2 linked regions of the Homo sapiens genome follow. The protein of the gene in region 1 interacts with the protein of each later gene in a pairwise test. Each region holds a gene or a part of one and is shown on either strand. Other genes may lie near its edges.

Evidence for each region.
Region 2: the proteins of LMO2 (region 1) and TRIB3 interact in binary tests that used the Homo sapiens proteins (3 or more experiments, as listed by UniProt).

The regions. Positions count from the first base shown.
Region 1 is NC_000011.10:33,882,077-33,885,576, reverse strand, and holds part of LMO2 (rhombotin-2), read left to right. Parts: intron 1-3,300; exon of another isoform or gene 3,301-3,393; intron 3,394-3,500. UniProt on the Homo sapiens protein: Acts with TAL1/SCL to regulate red blood cell development. Also acts with LDB1 to maintain erythroid precursors in an immature state.
Region 2 is NC_000020.11:387,260-390,759, reverse strand, and holds part of TRIB3 (tribbles homolog 3), read right to left. Parts: intron 2,750-3,500; coding exon 2,459-2,749; intron 1-2,458. UniProt on the Homo sapiens protein: Inactive protein kinase which acts as a regulator of the integrated stress response (ISR), a process for adaptation to various stress. Inhibits the transcriptional activity of DDIT3/CHOP and is involved in DDIT3/CHOP-dependent cell death during ER stress.

The DNA of each region.
Region 1 (3,500 bases):
CTACTGCCTAAGGCTATCTCCGGGCTAACTTGTATGTACACAGAGATAAAGCCACATCCCAGTGGCTGGACCTCATGCAATGTTGGGCCTCCTATCTGCCCCCATGAGCAGGCCACTCCCTTATTTGCACCACAAAACCACCAACACCAAACACTTCTGGTCTAGGCTCCTAGGTCTTGCCCTGTCCTATGTTGGCTCAGATGTTATCCAGTCTGGTCCCCGGCTCATGAGTCCAGATCATACATCTATCCAAATGTATAAATACATGCCTATGCTTGTATCTTCCTAGGCCCACACAGCACAACTAGTGTCATGGCCCACCCCAGATATTAAAGGAACACAAGAGATTGGAAGCCCCAGAGGGAACCTGCTTCACCTGTTCCACTCCTAGATAACTTCTTCCTGACGTCCCAAATACCTAAACTCACCTGCACACTGCTAAGTCTGACAACCCCCTTCACATTTTTCTGACTGTTCTGCAATTTAACCCTGCTGGTCACAGTCCCCAGTCAGAGGTGATGGGCAGTCTTCCTACCCATTGTCCTGGGTATAAGCATGACTTGGGGCCAGAAGAGTGGGACTAAGGTCTTACAATATGATCACACCAGGAAAACTAGCAGATACTTCAGAGAAAGATCCGAGGTCCTATCAGCCCACGTAACACAAAAAACAGCAGCACTGGAAGCTTTCACTGAAGGGCAAAAACCCCTAACTGCCAGGGTGGCAGATAAGAGACTAGCTCCAGATGATATGCCAGCTTCCCAGAAGGAGTATATGCTCTCAGAGGGCATAGTGTATCCTGCTGGACGTGGATAAATATTGCAAGGCAAAGTAATCCAAATAGCCCAATGGATGTACCACCAAACAGAAACCAAATTCTACATGTGGTACTCTGAACTCCCTAGGACTTGGATGTCCCCTGTAGCCTGGGGTGACCTTGTTTTAGGAGCCCTCCTGCCCACAAGTAGACTTACATACTGCACTGGCTATGTAAAATTGGTACAGCCTATATACAAGTATATTAGCTCTTTGGATGGTGAACCAAATGTTAGGGAGTGAATTTTGAAGAAATTGAGTTGAGTGCAAAAAGTTGCTCCCAGCAAAATGTCATTTGTCCAAATAGTTAACACCCACTGGGGCAGAAACCATCAGGGCACCCCACCCCTCACCACCCACTCAGCCCCACTCACCTCTGCAGCACCTAGTAATCATATGCAAGAAAACTCACCCTTACTCTTTTTGATTGACCACCCCCAGCCTGACCCCCAATGGAGCAGATCACTCAAAATTAATCTTCCCCCACTACCTCCTCTCGGCATTATTCAACAGGTGGGCCCCTGTCCTATATCTACGTAGGTCCCCAGCACCAGGCTCTTTCTCCTCCCCAGAAGTCAGGGAGTCCTCTTCTCAGTGGGGCCCTCAACCAGTGGCTTCCCTCGCTGCCTATGCCTGCATAAGTAATACACCTTTGAATTGCCTGTGATCACCGGGTCAGGTGTGGTGCGTTTTGGCATCCAAGGCTTTTAAATGGGAGAGAACAGCAGATCTGGTTCCTTTCACTGGAATATTGTTATGGTCCAATTCTGCAACCAGCTGACTTCATTACTACCTGTGAACTGCACCTCCAGCTCCTCCAACTGACCCCATACCCAGACCCTTACTTGGGCTGTTTCCTACCAGACACACCTGCTCTGTTAAGAAAACCATTATTGAAATCACCGGCTGTTAATTCCTACTCAGTCCTTAGTAGCCCTGTGAGCTGGAGCAAGTTCTGTAGGCTTTCTGTGACTCAGTTTCATCACCCATAAAATTATGATTACAATACTTACTTCATTAGGGTGTTGCAAGGGCCTAAAAAACACTCTATGTATAGCTCAAAGTACAAGCCTGACAACAAAGGAAGTTTCCAGATAATCGCTCATCAAGGGGCAACTCGATTTTCTGCTTCCTCCAGAAAGCCTTCCATGCTGATGTCCATCCACTCTGATCTCTCCCTAATCCAATCTGATTGCAGTTTTGATCAGCACCTCACTGTTGACCATGGATTTCTTCTCCATTACAAATGTGTTCATTTTGACTTCCAAGTAAGAGATAAAGGTCTTGGAAAGAAGTGATTGCATTTTACCTGGCTCTCCTACTGACTTTCTGTGTCATCTTCCTCTTAATTTTGGGGAGACTGAGTTTCTTTCTCTGGGATGGCAAATACATGGCCTATGTGCCAACACTTTCCCATCCTGAAACCTCAGGACACACACCAGTGTTCTCATCTTCTCTCCAGAACCTGGGTCCAGACTCACAATTCTTCTTAACACAATACTTTGGACAGTGTCTACTAACTTATCTAATAAATATGTTTTGAGTACTTCGTAGGTACCATCCCCCTTGGTCAGTTTCTAGAAGTTAAAACGTTGGACATCTTGTATCTGCACTTATGGAACTCATCCCTTAGTGGAGAAGAAAGACAATATGCAAATACACAAATAAGAAAATATCAAGTAGTGACAAATATAATGATGAAAATTAAATAACGGTGTGTTAGTGCCTGGGGAGGAGGCTATTTTTTAGATCAGGTATCCAGGGAAAGGCCTTCTGAGGTTTCTCCCTTGATCTGGGAGATTGGGTGTGGGCCTAAGAATATGTATTCCTAACATGCAAACGTAGGAAATTTGGGAAACACTGGCATAGTGAATGAGGTGAGGGCATAGTCAGAAGACCTAGGTCTAAATTCCGTCTCCTACATTTATGCAGCTGTATGACCCTGGGAAAGTTATTGAAATTTCTCTCTCACTTTCCTCCTCTGTAAAATTGGAATAATATTACTGATCTCAGGAGGTTTCTTATCAGGATTGAATAAGATCAAGTATTTAAAATGCCTGGCACATAATAAGTGCTCAATAAAAGGTAGGCATTGTTTGCCACAATTAGGTCTATCTATTTATAACCGTAATCTTTTGTTTGAATCACTCAAGAGACAAATCCAATAAATGCCGCTAGGTAATACGGTGTCTGCGTGTTGGCTTTTGCCTCATGAAGCTCTTCCTCTTGAAAAATAAATTTTCAAAAGACATTCCTGTGAGCAAGAATGCCCGAGTCTAAGGAACAAGGGTCATCCAGTTCTCTAGTTTAGGCATGTTTGAGATTTGAAAGGGCTTTGGCCTAATTTCCTCTCCTATCAAATGGGCACCAGGCTACCTGCCCTTTTTCACTCATGGGGGATTTCTGAGACTCAGAGGGATAAGAGATTTGCAAAGCGTGAGACACAAACAGTTGCAGATACAGACAGAACACTTGCTTTCTCAGACCGGCAGGTGCATACAATGGCAAGGCCACCTGATACACCAGTCCTGTTCATTTGGAAAAGGGACAACTCCTTCACATTCACAAGCTGGGCTGGTAAGTGAAGAATAAGAAGAAAAAAAAAAGAAGTCGGCAGGAAGCAGCCTCTTCAACCAGCAAAGAAACCGTTAGAATCCATCCCTGCGCCCTGATGCCAAAGTTCC
Region 2 (3,500 bases), on another chromosome or scaffold:
AAAGGGCTGGGATTACAGGTGTGAGCCACTGCACCCGGCCTTTTGTCTGTGCTCTTAACTGCTACGCTATATGGCCTCAAACATCGGATAACTGAAAAGTAACAGGTCACCCAAACAGAAAAATAACCCACAAAGCAGGAGGAATCCGGAAGGGCGGATGATGCAGAAGGCACCTGATGCTCATCACCGTCACAGCTCCCGTCCTCTTTGCCCACCCACGCTTTCATTCATTCAGTATGCTGGCCCTGGGCCTGCACGGGCCAGCCACATGTCCAGCTAGACTGACAGCCATGGGCTCTGCTCTCCGGTGCCCACTGGGAGGCCATGCAAACATGCCCAGAAACCAAATATTGACAAATGCTGATAAGCATTGCAAAGGAACCAAGAAAGATGCTGGAATAAGGGTTTTCCTGTTTGTTTTTTGTTTTTTTGAGACGGAGTTTTGCTCTTGTTGCCCAGGCTGGAGTGCAGTGGTGTGATCTCGGCTCACTGCAACCTCCACCTCCCAGGTTCAAGAGATTCTCCTGCCTCAGCCTCTCGAGTAGCTGGGATTACAGGCCCCTGCCACCATGCCCGGCTAATTTTTTGTATTTTTAATAGAAACAAGGTTTCACCATGTTGGCCAGGATAGTCTCGAACTCCTGACTTCAGGTGATCTGCCTACCTCGGCCTCCCAAAGTGCTGGGATTACAGGTGTGAGCCACCGCGCCCGGCCACCTGACACGTATTTTACTTATTCGCTTGTTTAGTGTCTGTATCTCCCACTAGAACGTCAGCTTGATGAGAACAGAACTTTGTTTTTTAACCACAGCATGGTACATGGCAAATACGGGTGCTCAATGAAGTTGTGTTGAATTAATGAATAAGTTGATCATTTACAAAGACAAGATTTTGATCTTTCTACACACTGACCAGAAAAGCTGAGGAAGTGTGGAAATGACCATTCAGCACCCATGGTGCACATTGGCATAGGGGTGAGTATGTTCCAGTGGATTTTCCCAAATGTTTCTTGAGAATCAGGGCCCTGTGAACGCATGGCGCTTCTCTCCTGAGCCTGCTTGGGTTATTCCTCTTATCATGGACTCACCTCCCCAGCGGGAGTGGAAAAGAGCCTGTGATGCTGCAGGAAGGGGACCCAGAGTTCTGGGCTCCTTAGGGCACCTGGTAAGGGCGCTGGAGATCTGTGCACAAGAGGCCAGGTGAAGCTAGGGGCTGGACCCTGTCTGGATCTGCCCCGCTGTTCACTGCATCTCCGTCAACAGAGCAAAGCTCTGCTGCTGCCCCAGGAGGAGGCTTAAGTCCTTCTGCTTCTCTGTGCATTCCCAAGGGACCCAGGCCCCCGCTACTCTCCCTTGGGTTTCCAGGTCCCCCTTATCTTCCTTATGCTTGCCTGCCAGGGCAGCCTGCCCTGATTGTGTGAAACGCTTATCCTAGCACGGGCACAGGACTCTCTGGGCTCAGCCTCCTGGGCCCAATCCCAGCTCTGATACCACCTGGCTCTGTCATGTGGCAAGTAACCATGGCTTTCTGAGTCTCAGTGTCCTCTATCTATAAAAGGGGCACAATGATAGAAACCACCTCATTGGTTGTGTCAAGATTAAAAGAGATTGTGCACACTAAGCAATCATCATAGTACCTGGTGCACAGTGAATACCTATTGTTACACTTTTTATTCTCATCTCTGTCTTCTTGGACTGTCACTTGTCAGTGTCCTGCATGGGCTGACCCTCAGGGGCCTTGACCCTGTCCATTTCCTGGTTTCTGCCAGGAATCCTCAGACTTTTCTACCCCTTAGTTTACCCCAGGAGCCAGGCCCAGTGCTATGTGACTTCACGCATGGCCCTTCTCCTGTCTTCATCTCAGTCTTCCTATCTGTAAAATGGCCCCAGGTTAGGCTCGATCACCTCCGAGGTCCCAGGAGTTTTGATGTCTACCATGCCCTACCCTTCTCTTGTGCAAACATCTTCAGTAGCTCCGCACAGCCCAGTGGAGGCCCCTTGTTAACACCTTCATGACCAGCTGCTGCCAACCTTCATCTCCTGCCCCTTTCTGCACATCCTCTCCACTCTGGCCACAGAGAAGTCCTTTTCATTCTCTAAAGTGCTATCCCCTCACTTTTCTAGGCCTTTGAACAGCTGTTCCCCCTGCCTGCAACTCCCATCTCCCACTTCTACCTGGCTAACTTCTGCTCGGCCTTTTCTGCGCCCATGATCCCTAAGTTCTACCCCTGCAGCATTTATCACACTGTAGGGCCTAAGCTGTGAACTCCCCCAGGACTGGGACGACCTCTGGTTTACCTCTCTAGTATCAGTCCAGCAGGGGCTCCCTGGATGCTTCCCCACTAAACAAACACAAGAATGAATGAACATAAGGACCCCTCTGCACCCTGGCAATCCTTTGGAGGCCTCCTTCCCAGGCCTCCTGTGGTGCTGGGGGACAGCCGCCCATGGGCACGTACCTTGCAGGTATACTCAGTGCCTGTAGGGCAGTGCAGGGCCTGGTAGGCCCGCCCGCCCTCCTCGGGCTCCAGGAGGACATAGGGCCCAAGACGGGAGGCAGTGGCCACAGCAGTTGCACGATCTGGAGCAGTAGGTGGGCTCAGGGGCAACAGGCAGGGGGGCAGTCTGGGCTGGGGCCCACTTCGAGCTCGTTTCTGGACGGGACGCTCGGTATCTAAGTTGTCATCCAACTCCAACCGCTTCTTCCTGGACAGGGAACCCGCAGGAGCAGCCAGAGGGGTGGCTCGCATCTGGTAAAAAGGAGAGAAAAGCACTAAAGTGAGACTGCTTGGTGGCCCCTCCTTTCCCCTGCTGGTGGGAGGATACGTGGCACAACATTTATAGGGGGTGATCTGGCAGTGTGTGTTAAAATGACAAAGTCACATATCCTTAACTGGGTGCCCCACTTCTGGGAATTTATCTTCCAGTTAAACTTCTCACAAAAAAATTAAATATAGTAAAGGCTGTTCATCAGAGCCTTGTGTCCAATAGCAAAAGCAGGAAATATCCCAAATGTCAGGCAGTAGAAAGCTAGTGAAAACATCATGGTATAGCCATACAGCAGAATACTACACAGCCCTGAAAAAGGACAAGGAAGCTCTCTATATACTGATGCGTACTGATCTCCAAGATGTATTAAGAGAAGAAAGACAAACACAGAATTACGTGTTATAGAATGCTTTTATGGTGGGTTTTTTTTTTTTTTTCCCCAAGAGATGTTGCCCACGCTGGTCTCAAACTCGTGGCCTCAAGTGAACCTCCCACCTCAGCTTCCTAAGTAGCTGGGACTCTAGTAGTGAACCACCACACCTGGCTATACTTTTATGTTAAAAAGAATATATATAAATATGTTATATATATGTATGTATTTGTTTGAATATCTATCATCTCTCTCTCTGAAAGGATGCACAAGATTAGGAGGAGACTCTTACTATTACAGTTCACTTGCAGCCTCGACCTCAGGGTTCAGGTGATTCTTCCACCTCAGCCTCCCAAGTAGCT